Linked DNA regions of Homo sapiens. The protein of the gene in region 4 interacts with the protein of the main gene of each other region in a pairwise test. Each region holds a gene or a part of one and is shown on either strand. Other genes may lie near its edges.

Region 1 (4,321 bases), on a different chromosome or scaffold from region 4:
ATAGTAGCATTGTTCGTAATAGCTAAAATGCAGAAGCAACCCAAGTGTTCACTGAAAGATAAATGGATAGACAAAATGTGGTATATACATAAAATGGATCAGTATTTATCCTTAAAAAGGAAGGAAATTCTGATATATACTACATCATAGATGTACCTTGAGAACGTTATGCTAAGTGAATAAGCGAATCACCAAAAGACAAATACTGTACTATTCCACTTACATGAGGTACTTAGAGTAGTCAAAATCATAGAAACAGAAAACAGAATGATTGTTGCCAGGGACGTAGGGAGGGGGAATGAAGAGTTACTGTTTAATGAGTATAGAGCTTCAGTTTTACAAGATGAAAAGAGTTCTGGAGGCCAGGCATGGTGGCTCACACCTGTAATCCCAGCACTTTGGGACACTGAGATGGGTGGATCACCTGAGGTCAGTTCAAGACCAGCCTGGCCAACATGGTGAAACCCCATCTCTATAAAAACACAAAAATTAGCCATGCATGATGGCGGGTGTCTGTAATCCCAGCTACTCAGAAGGCTGAGGTGAGAAAATCACTTGAACCCAGGAGGCAGGGGTTGCAGTGAGCTGAGATCGCACCATTGCACTCCAGCCTAGGTGACAGAGCAAGACTCGGTCTCAACAACAACAAAAAGAGCTCTGGAGATGGATGGTGGTGACAGTTGCACAACAATATGAATGTATTTCATACTACTTTAAAATGGTTAAGATAATAAATTTTATGTTACATGCATTTTACTATGATTAAAATATCGGACAAAATATAGCTCCAATAAGGTGACTTTAGAGACTTTTTTTTTTTTTTGGAAACAGAGTCTTGCTCTGTCACCCAGGTTAGAGTGCAGTGGTGCAATTCTGACTCACTGCAACCTCCGCCTCCCAGGTTCAAGCGATTCTCCCACCTCAGCCTCCTGAATAGCTGGGACTACAGGTGCCCGCCACCACACCCGGCTAATTTTTGTATTTTTAGTAGAGACAGGGTTTCACCATGTTGTCCAGGCTGGTCTGGAACTCCCGGCCTCAAATGATCTGTCCACCTTGGCCTCCCAAAGTGCTGGGAGTACACGCATGAGCCACCACATCCAGCCTGAATTTAAAGACTTTTGTCCTCAATACATGTACATTTTACCAGGTTAGTTGAATTTAAATTGCACTGAAAAAAAATTTTTTTTAAATATCAATGATCTAAACATCTACCTCAAGAAGTCAGAGGAAGACAAAACTGTCCTGTTACAGGTCTTGAGGCTACAAGAATGACTAGGGATCAAGGATAAGAGTACTCTTCACAGTGCTTTGGAAGAGTTAAGTGTCTTCTGTCTGGAACCAGGAAAGAGTGTAAGATAAAATGCAAATACTAACTCCAGGCCTCACCACTTCTGAAAACTACACATGATGTGTCTGGACAAGGTACTCTGACTCCCAAGCCCTGCAAGCCTCCAGGCCTCCCCATGCCTCAACACAGTCTGGCACAGGGCATGGGACCACCTGCAGCTGCTCACCAGTGTTGCGGATGATGTAATCCAGCACCACCAACCGCTCAAACTGGAGCAGTAGTTGCCGGTTAGTGTTCTCAGGAAGAGGTTCTGCTTCAAAACGCCGCAGCCAATAGTCTGCATCTTTGTAGCCTTCAACAAAGAGCTGGAATGAACCAACCTGGAACCAAGAGGAAGGAACAAAGGTTTTTCCCTACTGCCCAAATCCAAAGACCTTTGGAGTATATGCCAGATACCCATTAAGGCCCTATGGAGTTTGTATCAGAGAAGGAAAACTTTTCAAGATCTTTACTTCCTCATTTCTTGCAAGTACAGGAGAAAAGAGATGTAACAGTGATCATCCATCCAAATTAAAGAACCTATCCAAATGAACCAGAGGAGTAAAGTGAAAAGTTAGGTCTCAACTTTTCAAACCTTAGCCACTTGACAGAAATAAGGAAGACAGGATCCTCAGGGCAGGTTATTCACGTGCCCATATTTGAGTTGTAGGCACCTTGCTTCACCACTTGGATGACTATGTCACTATAAATCATGACCCTTGATAAGCCAGAGGTGCGTCTATACCTTTGGTGGTAGCCCGATGCGGTTAAACCGCTGTCCAACTTTTGGCACTTTCTCTAGTGCAAGCCGCTTGCCCCTGGACTTCACTCGGTCAATGGCACTATAGTTGAAGGTCTCACTGGCCAGGTATACTACCTACAGTGAAAGAGAAGAGATACTAAGGTTAGAGTCAAGTTTAAGGAACCAGAAGACTATGGCAGAGAATAAATAGCTTGATGTTCACAAATCCTATTCCTCTTCCAGGGCACAGAAAGAATACATTTCTCAGCCTTCCCAGCAACTAGGAGAGGGAAGATAACTAGTTTGGGCCAATGAAATAATGACAAAATTATGTATGTACAACACTTCCACTGCTGGCAACTAAAATCTCCCACAATCCTTAATTCACATTCTCCAGTCTGTGCAGCTAGGAAAGAAGGGCTGGGAAATAGCAGAGCCACACCATGGAAGAACCTCGGATACCTTGTAACTACATGAGTGATGTGGTATCTAGGAGAGCTGCCTATCTGGCATGAGTCTGAGATGTAATCAAGAAATACACTCCTGGCCAGGCGTGGTGGCTCACACCTGTAAACCCAGCACTCTGAGAGGCCGAGGTGGGCAGATCACTTGAGGTCAGGAGTTCGAGACCAGCCTGGCCAACATGGTTAAACCCCGTCTCTACTAAAAATACAAAAATTAGCCAGGCATGGTGGTGCACGTCTGTAATCCTAGATACTTCGGAGGCTGAGGTGGGAGGATGGCTTGAACCTTGGAGGCAGAGGTTGCAGTGAGCCAAGATCGCACCACTGCACATTCTATCCTGGGTGACAGAGGGAGACTCTGTCCCAAAAAAAATATGATAAAAAAGAAATACAATCCAATTGTATTAAACCACTTAGATTTAAGGGTTGTTACAGCAGCTAGTATGAAGTACAAGGATTAACACTGTCATCTCCTGGGTTAGATTAGGCCAAATGCCCATCTTCTTTCCAGAGACAAACAAGTTGCAATTTACTCTGTACCCCTTCATTTCCTTTTGAAAAAAAATTTTTTTTTTTTTTTTTTTTTGAGACAGAGTCTCACTCTGTTGCCCAGGCTGGAGTGCAGTGGCACAGTCTCGGCTCACTGCAACCTCCAAGTCCCGCATTCAAGCAATTCTCATGCCTCAGCCTCCCAAGTAGCTGGGATTACAGGTGTGTGCCACCACTCCTGGCTAATTTTTGTATTTTTAGTAGAGAGAGGGTTTCACCATGTTGGCCAGGCTGGTCTTGATCTCCTGACCTCAGGTGATCCTCCTACCTCGGCCTCCCAAAGTGCTGGGATTACAGGCATGAGCCACTGTGCCCGGGCCCTTTTGAATTTTTTTACTTTGTGAAATTATTCGTATTCAAAACACAAACATTAAAATTGGTTTTCATTTTAATTAACTGCTATTTTTATGTATAGGCTATACACTGTAATCCTGGCTGCCTCTGAGGAAGGAAACTGAATGGCCAGGAGATAGGGGTAGCAGGGAGTCTGAATTACTTTTCTCTGTTTACCCTATGTGCCTTCTGATTTTTATACTAGATGCATGCATTACTTATTCTAAAAAAAATTTTTATGAGCCATCAATATTATACTTAAGTCAAATTGCAGTGACGTAATTGTAATCCACATATGCATCTATTGTCACACTTATCACATTGTCTTGTAATTATCCATTTGTATATCTAACTCCTCCTTTAAAATGAATGAGATTTGAGGAAGCGGAGAACATCTTATTTATATTAGCATCCACAGCACCTAACACAGTAGCTGGCATATGCTCATTAAATATTTATTAAGTGAATGAAGAATGAGTTACAAGCTTCTTTCAGAGACAGCAACAAGTGAGTTTTAGCATATAAATACCTAAAATCAAACTTATAAGAAAGGTATTTTCCTAAGCCTTGTAAAATTTATTACAAATAACTATTTTTTTTCCCATGAACCTGAGAGGCAAAATAACTGCCTCTCATCTATCGCTCCATGCTACCATCTAGTATTAATAGACTACCTAAAATGGATGTGCATGGTACTGTAGTAGGCACTCCCTGCCTTACAAATCAGAAAACTCAGGCATAGGAATGAAGGAAAAAGAGCTTTCCTAAGGCTACCTTGCCAGTGTCCACAGTGAAACTCCTGGCTCTCTCAAGCCATAAATCCCCTTTTGCCCCCATCATATTTATTTTCTATCATTCTTCCTAACAAACCACTTTTTCCCCATGACTAATGAAACTATCATA
Region 2 (4,321 bases), on a different chromosome or scaffold from region 4:
ACTACGGGCTTGAGTTAAGATGGGTCTTCATCCACTGCTGACCCACCCCATTAAGGGAGAAGAACAGATGGAGATTCAGGACAAGAGTCCCGGCTAGGAATGAAGATGGCCGTTGGCCTGGAACCTTCTCCACTTGAGGAAGCGAGAGGTGCAGGCCTGGATGGAGAGGAGAAATCTGCAAGGCCAGCCATCGAGATGCCTCCCAAAACCCCTACCACATTCATCCGATCACTTTTTCAACCATCTGATCTGCCTCTGGCTGGAAACATGTTAGTCCTGGAGAACGTAAGAAAAAGAATCTTAATTGCTCAATTACGTAATTGTGCTATACTACAAACAATTCTGAATGAATGTCAAGTTTAAATTTTTCCATCACAACTGTCATAATCCTCATTTACATTAATACTGAGTTACTGAATGCCATATATAGAAAGCAGTATGATACACATCACATGGCTTCTAACCACTATAAATTTGCAATTTAAACAGGATTTTGATGGTAAGTTACACTCCCCCCAACAATCTAATGTTCAACTAAATCTGTCTCATATTTCTAAAGTTTCAGTCATTTTCTTCACATCTAGAAGTAAAACGTCCTTATGTTCTCTTGCATTGCTGAAAGTCTCTCAGAAAATCTCCGCAATTCTTCTCACTAGTGATCAAATCCATTCACTCACTAGAAATGGATGGAGCCTTCTCAGTTTTCCACCGCTAGAGCACACAGCTGAGTATATCAAATTTGTCTCCTAAGGACAATTTCCAGTGCAGAGATGTGCCCAAACTCCCTACTGCAGTCAATTCTTTCCATTTCAAAGTAAATTATTTTGTCTCTATATCCAAATACAAACTTAAGGAACTTTATATTTAAACCAACATCCATTGTATTTGAAAAACATAATAAGGCCAGGCACGGTGGCTCACACCTATAATCCCAGCACTTTGGGAGGCCGAGGTAGGCAGATCACCTGAAGTCAGGAGTTCGAGACCAGCCTGGCCAACATGGCAAAAACCCGTCTCTAATAAAAATGAACAAACATTAGCCGGGCGTGGTAATGGGCACCTGTAATCCCAGCTACTCAGGAGGCTGAGGCAAGAGAATCGCCTAAACCAGGGAGGTGCAGTTTGCAGTGAGCAGAAATCCCACCACTGCACTCCAGCCTGGGCAACAGAGTGAGACTCTGTCTCAAAAAACAACCAAAACATATATATTAGAAATAAGTAGTAACTAACCAGCAGTAACTGACCAACACTTTTTGACACCACAGATAAATGAAAAGCAAAGAAAATTTCCTATTTCAAATGGATGACTTCTGTCCATAATTTCTCACCTAAAGAAAGTGAGAAAGTAGCCATTTCTCGAAGTGCCAGAGGCTTAATCCATGATTTCTCACACCAACCCTATGAGAGAGATCTTTACGGCCCATATCTCGCATATCCCACTGCTGACAGGACAGGTCCACTGCGTGGCCGCAGTCTTCCTGCCAGGACTGGGTCACCTTCTCAATTCCTCCACCTCAGCAGTATCATCACTCTTCTCATGACTGAGGTCAAAAATGCTAGAATCCTCTTTGCCTCTAGCCTGTCATTCTTTATGGCCTTTACTTTCTACCTGTCATGACATCCTCTGGCTCTCAGGACGACTGTGTGATCGTCACTTTGCTGCTCTGTGGCTGAGGCTGTGCCCTGTGGCTTTATCCCGCCCACCTGCCTGGACGCGGATGTGCAGGGACCAGGGCCGGCACCCTCAGCATTGGGCGGTGCTGGAGCTGGCTCCTTCTGTGCATCTACCTTTTCCCTAAACTCGGCTGACCCCAGCGCTCTCATGGGCACCCACCTGGACAATCCCTGGCCTTGCAGCTCTTGGACCTCCTCATCTTGGTGGCCTTCTCCCCATTTCCTCAGCCACACATTCCCAACCACCCCCAAGACCCATGGTCAGTGGCAGGCCTGTTTTCCTCCGGGACCCAACAAGGTGACATGGAGCGGTGGGCACTGAAGCAGGCCCAAGAGCTCCTAACGGGCAGCTGCTGTTCAGTTACAAGGCACTGTCACCACCCAGGACTTGAGGAAGGCCAGCTCGGCATTTTATCAGGCATCCACCTCTCAAGCCAGAAACCCAAAGTCTTCCCTATCTATGAATCACCTATTTGAAAATCTTCTATTCTCCTCAAACCCGATGACCTTCTCTCTCTGCTCACCTTCTCCCCCACCATCTTAACTGTCTGCTGTCTAACATCTAAAGGGCATGTTTGCCTCTATCTTACTCTGGATGCCAGCCAACCGCTGTCATCATCCCAAGAACCGTGTACTACTAATACTCGCTGCTTAGGTGGAGGGGAGGGGAGACAAAGATTTTGTCTGTCCCACAGCATTTCTAAACACTACGTAAACCACTGCTATTATCATACCCAATAAAATGATCATTGTCAACATCACCTTATACCTACGCCATACTGAATTTCCCCACTTCATCAACATCAAGCCTTTCCACTGAAAGTGGATGTGGAGAATACTGGATCCGGCTTCAGGTTGTTCCTATATGCTACAGAGCCATTTTTCTGGGACTTTGAGCTGTCATTATGAAATGAAAGTGTCCAGAACAAGGTGAAGCGGCAGACGGGGTGTCACCATCAGATGGAACAGCCCAGCTGGCTCTCAATGGTGCGGCTCCTCAGAGCCTGGCCCCAGACCCTCCTCTTGCTCTGCCCCACCTACTACACATTCTCACATCCGCCTCCACAGCTTCAGTCAGCCTTGTTTTCTCTGGTTCCACCACGTAGCAGACAGCCCCTGCATGGATCAGATACCTCCAACCCAACACATCTGAAAAGAAACTTAGGTTCTTCAAACCTGCAGCTTTCCAGTGTTCCTTATCTCTGAAACAGCATCATCTTCCTTCACTCGCTCAAGCCAGAAAGCTGGATCCTCCCATTCATTTTTTTCTGTCTCAAACTCCAACTCTATGTCCTCTTAAGGGGCCTCTCTGCTTCACTCTTGCCCCTCAAAGATCCACTGTTTACACAGAGTGCATCTCACCCCAACTCAAAAGCCCAGTGGCTTCCTTCCAAGAAAGACCATACTCCTCACTATGGCCCTATATGGCAAGGCCCCTTTTAAATCCTTCCTAGAACTCATTCACCTTATGAAGTTCAAATTTCATTAACTTTCTTTTCTTAGAACTCAGCAAATTCATGCCATTTGGGTCTTCCTTTTGCCTGGGAACTCTGTGCCCTCAGTTCTTCACATGGCCTCTCCTTGTCATTCAACCCTGATCTAAGTCACCTCCTGCCCGAGGTCCTTCTTGACCATCTCGTCTAAAATAGCCTCCTTCCCTTCACCTGCTATTACGGGACCCTGATTATTTTCTTTGAAACACCTTTCACCATCAACAGTCCTTTTGTTCATATTTCTCCACTTACTGTATGTCTTCTCTACCTAAATTAGTTTTCTTAGTCACAATTTTATCTCCAGTGCCCAGAAAAATGCAGAGTGGCCAATATACCACCTCAACTACCTTCTTTCTGTCTTAAATAGAAATATATGTACTTAAAACTTTTAAGGCCATGCGTGGTGGCTCACACCTGTAATCCCAGCATTCTGGGAGGCCGAGGTGGGTGGATCACTAGAGATCAAGAGTTCAAAACCAGGCTGGCCAACATGGTGAAACTCTGTCTCTACTAAAAATACAAAAAAAAAAAAAAAAATTAGCCAGGCATGGTGGCACATGCCTGTGATTCCAGCTACTCGGGAGGCTGAGGCAGGAGAATCATTTGAACCCGGGAGGTGGAGGTTGCAGTGCGCAGAGATCATGCAACTGCACTCCAGCCTGGGCGACAGAGTGAGACTCCATCTCAAAAAAAAAAAAAAAAACAAAAACAAAACAAAAAACAACCAGCAACAAAACTTAAGATCCACTCTGTATCAATAAGCTCCATGCTATATAAACTGTAACCTGAAATCAAGCCTTCCTCAACAAATGCATGAATTTGTGTTATTTATTTACTACCATGAAGTTCATTATAAGCAAATCAGGTACAGCTGGTAAACTTCATTATTCTCTTTGCTGCCATTGCTAATTTTAAACTAAGTAAGAGTGGAAACCCTTCAACGGATAGTACTCCATCACTGACATCCTGGTTCTACTCAGCTGCTTTAAATCTTCAACTTAAAATACGCTGTTACCCTTTTTCAATGACCCTGAAATATACATATATACACATACACACACACACACACACACACACACACACACAAGTAAACAGGTTCTCACACAAATACTGCTTGTAAGTTATTTGGTCTGAAAAAGCAAAACCAATAAACT
Region 3 (4,321 bases), on a different chromosome or scaffold from region 4:
CTTGCCCCCAGATTAAACCCTCCGAGAGGACCCCACAAAAGAAGGGCAGTTTTAAGAGTCAGGAGATGGTGAGTTCTAATAACATTTAAAGGAAGTCTATCACCTTAACCTGGGAGGCAGCTACAGTGTCATGGTTAGGCTTGCTGGTTTTGGAGCCAGGCCACCTGGGTTCATTCTTGGCTTACTTTCTGACTGTATAATTCACTAGCTCTATAACTGCTTAACCATTTTGTCTCTCATTTTCATCATCTGTAAGATGAAGATAATGGTGATATTAATCTGATGACACCTGTAACATGTCTGGCCTAAGTAAACATGCAGTTGAAGCTAGTATTTATTTTGTAAAATGCTTTTAAGCCTGTAAAGTGCCTTTATGTAGCTTAGTTCATATAATCCTCTCAAAAAGCTCTGCTGATACCTAACCTGGATACTTTGCCTGTACTGTCACTAAAAATCACTATCACTAAAGTAGTCCTGGGCGGAAGTGAGGCCCTGCCACACCACTGACCACAGCATGCATGCCACCTGGGCAGGCCGGCCGCAGCTTGCCCCAGGCTGGAGCCATCTGCATCTGGCAGTTGGCCATGTAGGGTCCTGTGGTATATATTGGAGAGAGCCAGGAAGTGCCCACTGACAAACCTAGAGTTTCTTGGTGAAAGAAGGCGAGCTTTCAGAGAGAATGAGAAGAGAGAGTAAAGGAAAGAAAGCAATGTGAAAAGCCAGGGAGGAAAAACAGGTGGTTACAGAGACTGCAGATTGGCTGACTGTGCCAAGTTGTCGTGAAGGATCAAATGTGTTCAAGAAGAGCGCTCCCACTGTAGGCAGTGGAGCAGGGAGGGGTTCGAGGTTCCCAGGAAGGGGAGTCAAGTGAGGAGCAGGCTCCCCACGTGCTGGGAGGCCTTGGTGATGGGGAGGTCCACTCTCATGCCCCATCCCTGCAGGGGAGGGTCTGATGGATGGGCCCAGTGTTCTCCCCAGGGTGCCCTGGACAGAGAGGAAGCCAGGAGCTCACTGACAAAGATGAAGGATATCTTGGTGTCGAAATTTGGCCACGAACAAGGTCAAGTGGCCACTTGGGTTGATGCTATCTGTAACCTTTGGGCTGGATATAGTCCATCTTGGCACTGACCTGGCTGGGAGATGTCAGAGATGCTGCTGCCCTAAGAATCTGGGTTTGTGGGGCAGAGCAATGCCACAGATGGCCTTGTCCCAAAGTCTTTTTGGGTAAATCCCACAGCTCAGGAAGAGAACACACAGCTGGGCCTTGGCCCCGGGTGTGCTCATATTTGTATGTCCTCTACGACAGCTTTCAAACTGCTTTTCTGACTACAAACCACAGTAAGAAATACATTTTATGCTGTAACCCAGTATACACATAGTTCCAAGGAAAAACTGCCCTTGCTGTTTTCTGTCCTGTTTCATTGTTTGTAACTGTTGGTCATAACCCAAAGTTGAAAACCGCCGTTCCGTGTCCTTGTGCTTCCTCATGTTCTCAGTGTTCTTTCTCACAATAACTCCGTGAGGGGGCAGGGTATGGATCCTGATGGGATGGGTGATTTGGCCACACAGCTGGGAAATGGCAGAGCTGGTACTTTCATTCCCCCATGCTGCTGGCCATAGACCTGGGACCAGCATGCAGGGCCCTCCCTGAAGGGGAGCACAGGCCTACCTGTCCCCAGCCCTGTGAGCCCTCCGTCACTCACTGTCCATGCAGGAGACTCCAGCCAGGAAGCGCCCGCCACCGTGGGAGCAGTGCACCGGCCCGTGCCTCTGGCACTGCTGCAGGGCCAGCTCTGTGCCTGAGCAGCGCACCCCACTCATCACCACCTCCTGGGCCCTTGGCGTCCCCGACCAGAACCAGGTTTCCTAAGAAGACAGCCAGCGTCACCCAGTCAGCGTGCCTTTGGAGTCACCTCCTGACTCCCATCTGAGGTGTGGCCTCAGTCATACCACCCCCACCGGGTTGTGTCCAGCCTGGGCCTGAAAATCTTCAGTGATGAGAACCCGAATTCCCTGGGGCAGTCCATGACACATTTGGACCCTTCTGATGTTAGAAATCCCCACCACATATGGAGGTAAAAATCCACCCACCGTGGCTTCCACTACTGGCCCTACACCCCTCTCTCTTCCAGATGGCAGAGGAGGGTCCTGTTCCCCGCCCCTCTCCCTGGGGGCTGTGCTCACATTTCCCCAGCTGCTCCTCAAGCGGCCCAGATCGTCAGTTGTGCTCAGGGTTGCCCAGTCCACACTGTGCGGCAGCCAGTGTGGGTGCAAGTGCAGAGGTTTCTCTGTTGCGGTCATGCCTAAGTCCTCTTGATTTTATTTTTTGATGTATTTTAGATCTATCCACTTATTTCTCCTGGACTACCTGGTCCAGTCCAGCCTCATTTCTCACCTGGGCTACTACAATAGCCTCCTGAGTGTGTTTCCTTGCATTCATGTTAATCTCCACCCAACGTTTTCCAAACAGCAAAGGAAGAAATCTTTCAAACATGTGGATTGCAAGCTTTGAGTGATCTTGCCCCTGCCTCCTCTGCCCTCATGTTTGACAGCACTCTCGAGAGAGAGCCACACTACAATCCCTGGCCCTGATTTCCTCAGCTGAATCAAGCTTTCTCTGGCCACAGGGCTTTTGCATAAGCTATTCATTCCTCCTCCACCTTGTCTGACTAATTTCTATTCATCTTTCCTGCAGATGCAAATGTGTCCCTCATTGACGATTTCATTAGGACTATGTCTTCTTGTTTACCACACTGTTCCCAGCACTCAGCATCATGTCGGCTCATAGTTTCACTCAGTAATGAATTGCCAAATGGGCAAAGAGGCAGCAGCTTTAGCACAGGAAGTTTTGGGCCTCAGAACAGGAGGGTGAGAGGTCATACGGAAGAAACAACAGAGGGACCTACCTTGTAGGCATGGATGGCAAAACCCAGGCCGAGCTGTCGGCAGGCCACCATGGCTTCGGTGAGCCCCCAGTTTTCACTGCACACGCTCCCCCAGCGTGGGACCCCGTTCACCTCCACCTGCACCTCCAATAGCCCCTCCTCAGGGATACGCCCACCAGCCAAGCGCACCTGCAATGGCGAGGGGTGTGTGAGGAGTGGGGTAGCCTTGCAGGGAAGAGCTCAGGGCTGCGAGCCTGGAGGTCTGCCCAAGCCAGCTCACTGTGTCACCCTAGACAAGACAGTCCCCTTCTCTGCCTTGGTCTCCTTCTCTGTAAGGTGAGGACAGTGTAGCAGGTAGTCTCTAATGTCCCTGCCTGCTAGAGAAATCTGACTCAAAGTGCCTGGACCAGGGGCTCCTCCTGCTCTGGCACTTGCCCTCCACCATTAACGACAACTGGCAATTTGCAAAGGGCTTTCATGTCCCTTGCCTCATTCACAGTGACCCCCTGAGAGCGTGAACCCCATTTTACAGTGGCACCAGTGACTTGCTCACAGTCCATGTTAGCACTGACACTTTGCCCTGAGCATCCCACACAGACTCCCTCGTGCCGACAGCCCTGTGGCCCTCTTTCCCAGGCACCTTCTTTCTCAGCTTCACAGGGGACCCGAGACGGGTATGGGAGAGCACATCCATCTGCAGAGCCCCTGTGGCCTCTGACATTTCGGAGGGGCTGCAGCCAGGTCGGCTCTAAGGGAAGGCAGACTGGTGCCCAAAGCAGAAGCGCTAGCCGCTCCTCCTGGACCTCTCCCCGCTAGCTCGATGTGGTGTCCTGGGGACTCCCCAGGGTTTCCCGGCCCCCAGCCTGAGGCCATGCTCAGACCCAAACTCACCTGATTCTGAAAGCCCATGTTAGGGACATTGCACCTGACAGCAGCATCATTCTCATGTTGGCAACCATTCTGGGACCCTTCCAGGGCAGGGCAGTCGCTGAGGGTCCGCTCATATCCCCTGCAGCGCACCTCACTCAGGTGGATGGGCCCTAGCCCTAGATGGGGAGAGAGGTGCTGTGTGCGAGGCTCCATCTCCGTAACCCCACACTTGTGGCTTCCCCTTCACAGAGGGGGATAACTTTCTGTCCTGGCCCTGTCACCCCAGGGCCTTCAAGACATGGACCAGTGGCATATCCAGGCCTTCTAACCCCTCCCAGGCTGTCTCACTCACCTTGGCCCAGCCGGGCCCCAAAGAGGGCCTCCCGAGCAGAGCCAAAGCCCAGCTGACGACACACGACACTGGCAGAGATGAGGTTCCACCTGTGGTCACAGACCGTGCCCCACTGGCGGTTCATGAGCACTTCCACCCGGCCCTCGCCCACCTGGGCCCCGGAGCGCAGGCGCACCCTCGGCTCCTGCTGGGAGAAACCTGCTTCAGGGACGGC
Region 4 (4,997 bases):
CAGGCTCAAGCGATCTTTCCACCTCAGCCTCCTGAGTAGCTGGGACTCCAGTCACACACCACTATGCCTGGCTAATTAAAAAAACTGTTTTTTTTTTTCAGAGACAGGGTCTCACTATATTGCCCAGGCTGGCCTTGAACTCCTGGGCTCAAGCAATCCTCCTGCCTCGGCCTCCCAAAGTGCTGGGATTACAGGCATGAGGCACTGTGCCTGGCCGTGAATTGAGTTCTGATTCTCTGGCTGAGTCCCCTGGTAGGTTCCCATGGTCCTTACTGCTAGCACAGCTTGAGTGACCTCTGCTTCAGTCCGTTCAGGCTGCTCTAACAAAATCTCTTAGCTTGGGTCATTGATGAACAACAAAAATTTATTGCTCACAGTTCTAGAGGCTGGGAAGTCCAAGATCAAGGTGCCACCAGATCTAGGTCTGGTGAGGGTTTGCTCTCTGCTTCAAAGATGACACCTTGCTGTGTCCTCACATAATATAAGGGGCAAACAAGCCCCTCAGACCTCTTCATATTTTTTTTGAGACAAGGTCTGGCTCTGTTGCCCAGGCTGGAGCGCAGTAGCACTATCTTGGCTCACGGCAAATTCCACCTCCCAGGCTGAAGCCATCCTTTCACCTCAGCCTCCCAAGTAGCTGGGACTACAGTCGTACACCACCACGCCCGGCTAATTTTTGTATTTCTTGTAGAAATGGGGTTCCACCATGTTGCCCAGGCTGGTCTCAAACTCGTGAGCTCAAGCGATCCACCCACCTTAGCCTCCCAAAGTACTGGGATTGCAAGCATGAGCCACCATGCCTGGCCCCCTCAGACCTTTGTTTGTTTGTTTTTTTTTTGAGATGGAGTCTCGCTCTGTCGCCAGGCTGGAGTGCTGTGGCGCCATCTCAGCTCACTGCAACTCTGACTCCCGGGTTCAAGCGATTCTCCTGCCTCAGCCTCCCAAGTAGCTGGGATTACAGGCATGCACCACCAGGCCCAGCTAATTTTTGTATTTTTAGTAGAAACGGGGTTTTACCATGTTGGCCAGGCTGGTCTTGATCTCCTGACCTCATGATCTGCCCACCTCGGCCTCCCAAAGTGCTGGGATTACACGCGTGAGCCACTGTGCCCGGCCAAGACCTTTTTTATAAGGGGACTAATCTCATTCATGAAGGCAGAGCCCTTATGATCTAAGTGCCTCTCCTCTCAAAGGCCTGACCTCTTAATCCTATTGCATTGTAGATAGATTGCAACATATGAATTTCAGGGGGCCATAAACATTCAGACCATAGCACCCTCCCATCCTTCTCCCAACACTTGCTACATTCTAGGCATCTTCCTTATTTTCTGTGCCAATTCTCACCACAGGGCTTTGCGTTCTCTGTTCCTTCTGCCAGGAACACTGTTCCCCATGGACTTCATGTTATTCCGGTCTCAGCTCCACTGTTCCTAATCAGGATGCCCTTCCTGACCTCCCTGGCCAAGGCACCACCCCTTCACCGTGCTTGGCTTGGTTCCTCATTCACCATGACTCAGTCTCCCTCCTGTCTCCCAAGGCTGAGCACAGGATTTGGTGCAAAGCTGACACTTGGCAGTGGTTTGTTGAATGACTGAGTGGAGTAACACCCTCAACTCAGTGTCCTGGGAGCCCCCACTCATGCCAGATCACACAAGGGATCCAAAGAGAGCCCCTCACAGCACTTGTCATGTGGTCCTGGACAGATAACAGTTTCCTTAAGAGCCAGTGGTTCTGAGATGGAGAAGCCCGGGGTGCTGTGGGAGCCGAGTGGGCAGGTGGGGCTTCCTGGGGGAGGTAAGGAGAGCAGAGGACGCTGGGCAGAGGGAGCAGTGTGTACCAGGAAATGCGGTGCAGTGAGTGGGGGCACCTGATTAAAGAGCTTGATCTCAAACCTCTTGGTTGGTGGGGAGAGCTATGCCGGGGGTGGGGGGGCAGAGATTTAAGAAGAAGGAATCGGGTTGGAATCATGTTTCTGGAAGAATCTGCAATTGGAAACGTGTCTCCTGGCAGCCGTGTGGATGCTGTTGGATGGGGAGAGGGGCTAGGGGACCAGGGTCGTGGGTCCAGGTGAGAGATGGCTTGAGACCAGCAGCAGAATGTGGGGGGGAGGGTTGTTTTTAGTTCATTTCTTCATTTTGCAAAGCAATGCACTAAAAAGCCAAACAGCATGTAAAAGCACACAGTGACGAGTCCTCTGCTTCTACCCAGGCCCCGTGCGCTGCCCCTGACGCCGCCCGTCTCCCTCCCCAGAGGTGACTATTTCCATGTCTCCTTCCAGAGAGGTTCTATACATTTGCAAGCAGATCTCTCTCTCTCTCTCTCTTTTTTTTTTTGGCATCTGTATCCTTTGTATTTAAATATCCTTCTCCCCCGTCTTATGGAGTAAAATACAGCCAGGCACAGTGGCTCATGCCTGTAATCCCAGCACTTTGGGAGGCTGAGGCAGATGGATTGCTTGAGCCCAGGAGTTCGAGACCAGCCTGGGCAACATGGCAAGACCCCATCTCTACCAAAAAAATACGAAAATTAGCTGGGAGTGGTGGTGCACACCTGTAGCCCCAGCTACTCAGGAGGCTGAGGCAGGAGGGTGGCTTGAACTCAGGAAGTCAAGTCTGTAGTGAGCCGTGATCATACCACTGCACACCAGACTGGGTGACAGAGCAAGATCCTGTCTGTTTAAAAAAAAGAAGTTCTTTAGCCAGGCATGGTGGCTTACGCCTGTAATCCCAGCACTTTGGAAGGCCGAGGCAGGCAGATCACCAGAGGTTGGGAGTTCGAGACCAGCCTGACCAACATGGAGAAACCTCGTCTCTACTAAAAATACAAAAAGAATTATCCAGGCATGGTGGTGCATGCCTGTAATCCTAGCTACTTGCGAGGGTGAGGCAGGAGAATCACTTGAACCCAGGAGGTGGAGGTTGCAGTGAGCCGAGATCGCGCCATTGCACTCCAGCCTGGGCAACAAGAGCGAAACTCCATCTCAAAAAAAAAAAAGTTTCTTTAGTAGCAGGGCATTATATACATGTACCTTGCCTTTTACAAATTTCATTTAATACAACTAGAAGTCACTGATCCATCTCAAATTTTTTTGTTGTTTTTTTGAGACAGAGCCTTGCTCTGTCGCCCATGCTGGAGTGCAGTGGCACAATCTCGGCTCACTACAACCTCCTCCTCCCAGGTTCAAGCAATTCTTGTGCCTCAGCCTCCCATGTAGCAGGGACTACAGGCGTGTGCCACCACGCCTGGCTAATTTTTGTATTTCTAGTAGAGACGGGGTTTCACCATGTTGGCCAGGCTGGTCTTGAACTCCTGGCCTCAAGTGATCCACCACCCTCGGCCTCCCAAAGTGCTGGGATTACAGGCATGAGCCACTGCGCCCGGCCTGCTCATCTCAATTTTTTTTAACTTGAAAGGATGAATGATATATGTTCTAATAGCTGTCCACTGTTTTGTTTCAAAAGCAAGTGCATTTTGTTAAAAAAAAAAAAACTTTGTCAGCGGGGCGCAGTGGCTTATGCCTGTAATCCCAATGCTTTGGGAGGCTGAGGCAGGTGGATCACCTGAGGTTGGGAGTTTGAGACCAGCCTGACCAACATGGAGAAACCCTGTCTCTACTAAAAATACAGACATTAGCCAGACGTGGTGGTGCATGCCTGTAATCCCAGCTACTCGGGAGGCTGAGGCAGCAGAATCACTTGAACCCAGGAGGTGGAGGTTGCGGTGAGCTGAGATCAAGCCCCATTGCACTCCAGCCTAGGCAACAAGAGCGAAACTCTGTCCCAAAAAAAAAAAAAAAAAATTGTCTAGTGTTTTTGAATTATGTTCAAGGTATAAAATTTTAAAAGATAAAAAAGGTATTCCTTCCCACCCTGTCCTCCACAGAGGTGAAAGCTATCATTTGCTTCTAGTGTCTCCTTCCTGGGATATTCTGTATATGTGAAGTTATTTTTCTTTTTTTAATTCACAAGCACTGAGCACTTATTATTTGCCAGGGACTGTGCTACATATTTTACAACCACCCAAAGTTAGGTTCATGCCCATAATCCTAGTGCTTTGGGAGGCCAAGGCAGGCGGATCACCTGAGGCCAGGAATTTGAGACCAGCCAGGCCAACATAGCAAAACCCTATCTCTACTAAAAATACAAAAAATTAGCCGGGCATGGTGGCAGGCGCCTGTAGTCCCAGCTACTTGGGAGGCCGACGCAGGAGAATCGCTTGAACCCAGGAGGCGGAGGCTATAGTGAGCCGAGATCATGCCATTGCACTCCAGCCTGGGTAATGAGCAAAACTCCATTTCAAAAATTAAAAAAATAAAATTAGCCAGGCATAGTGGTGTGCACCTGTAGACCCAGCTACTTGGGAGACTGAGGTAGGAAGATCACTTGAGCCCAGGAGTTCAAGGCTACAGTGAGCTATGATCATGCCACCATTCTCCAGCATGGATGACAGAGAGGGAGACCCCCATCCCTAAAAAAAAAAAAAAAATCGGAATTAAGTGCTGTTATCATCCCTATTGTGCATCTGGAGAAACTGAGGCACACAGGTACAGTGACTTGGCCAAGGTCACACAGCTTGTGACAGAGCCAGGATTTTGACAAAGGTGGGCTGGTTCTAGGGTAGTTCCCTCAGGGTGAGCATCCTAAAGATTGGTGGTTATTGCCAAATGGGACAGAGGGAGGAGGGGACAGGTTGGAGGGCCGTGTACCAGATCCAGGAGAGGTGTCCTGAATTCCCTGGTATCCCCCTTTCTGTTTCTCTGTCCCCAGTTCCTCTGTAGGGGATTGGGGGTTACAAGATTATATCCCTACTCTCCCTTGCAGGTTCCTTTGCCCAAAGACTCAACAGGTGCAGCAGATCCCCCCCAGCCCCACATCGTAGGTAAGTCCGAGAGCATGGGGGCAGCCAAGTCTCTAACCTTACCCAGGCCCTGCCAGGTTCTCGCTGGGCCTAGGCTGGGCTCCCTGGGCCTCTGGGCCGAGTCCCTTGCAGGGCACAGG

Evidence for each region. Proteins that work in one complex are often made in the same cells at the same time.
Region 1: the proteins of ECSIT (region 4) and PI4K2A interact in a two-hybrid assay, tested with the Homo sapiens proteins (one study listed by BioGRID).
Region 2: the proteins of ECSIT (region 4) and PAXIP1 interact in a two-hybrid assay, tested with the Homo sapiens proteins (one study listed by BioGRID and IntAct).
Region 3: the proteins of ECSIT (region 4) and LOXL4 interact in a two-hybrid assay, tested with the Homo sapiens proteins (one study listed by BioGRID and IntAct).

Annotation. Positions count from the first base shown.
Region 1 is NC_000010.11:97,654,171-97,658,491, reverse strand, and holds part of PI4K2A (phosphatidylinositol 4-kinase type 2-alpha), read right to left. Parts: intron 2,208-4,321; coding exon 2,076-2,207; intron 1,672-2,075; coding exon 1,518-1,671; intron 1-1,517. UniProt on the Homo sapiens protein: Membrane-bound phosphatidylinositol-4 kinase (PI4-kinase) that catalyzes the phosphorylation of phosphatidylinositol (PI) to phosphatidylinositol 4-phosphate (PI4P), a lipid that plays important roles in endocytosis, Golgi function, protein sorting and membrane trafficking and is required for prolonged survival of neurons.
Region 2 is NC_000007.14:154,971,304-154,975,624, forward strand, and holds part of PAXIP1 (PAX-interacting protein 1), read right to left. Parts: intron 3,603-4,321; exon of another isoform or gene 1-3,602.
Region 3 is NC_000010.11:98,253,874-98,258,194, forward strand, and holds part of LOXL4 (lysyl oxidase homolog 4 precursor), read right to left. Parts: intron 4,295-4,321; coding exon of another isoform or gene 4,292-4,294; coding exon 4,108-4,291; intron 3,932-4,107; coding exon 3,777-3,931; intron 3,075-3,776; coding exon 2,907-3,074; intron 1,867-2,906; coding exon 1,704-1,866; intron 1-1,703. UniProt on the Homo sapiens protein: Catalyzes the oxidative deamination of lysine and hydroxylysine residues in collagen and elastin, resulting in the formation of covalent cross-linkages, and the stabilization of collagen and elastin fibers.
Region 4 is NC_000019.10:11,507,872-11,512,868, reverse strand, and holds part of ECSIT (evolutionarily conserved signaling intermediate in Toll pathway, mitochondrial isoform 1 precursor), read left to right. Parts: intron 1-4,820; coding exon 4,821-4,878; intron 4,879-4,997.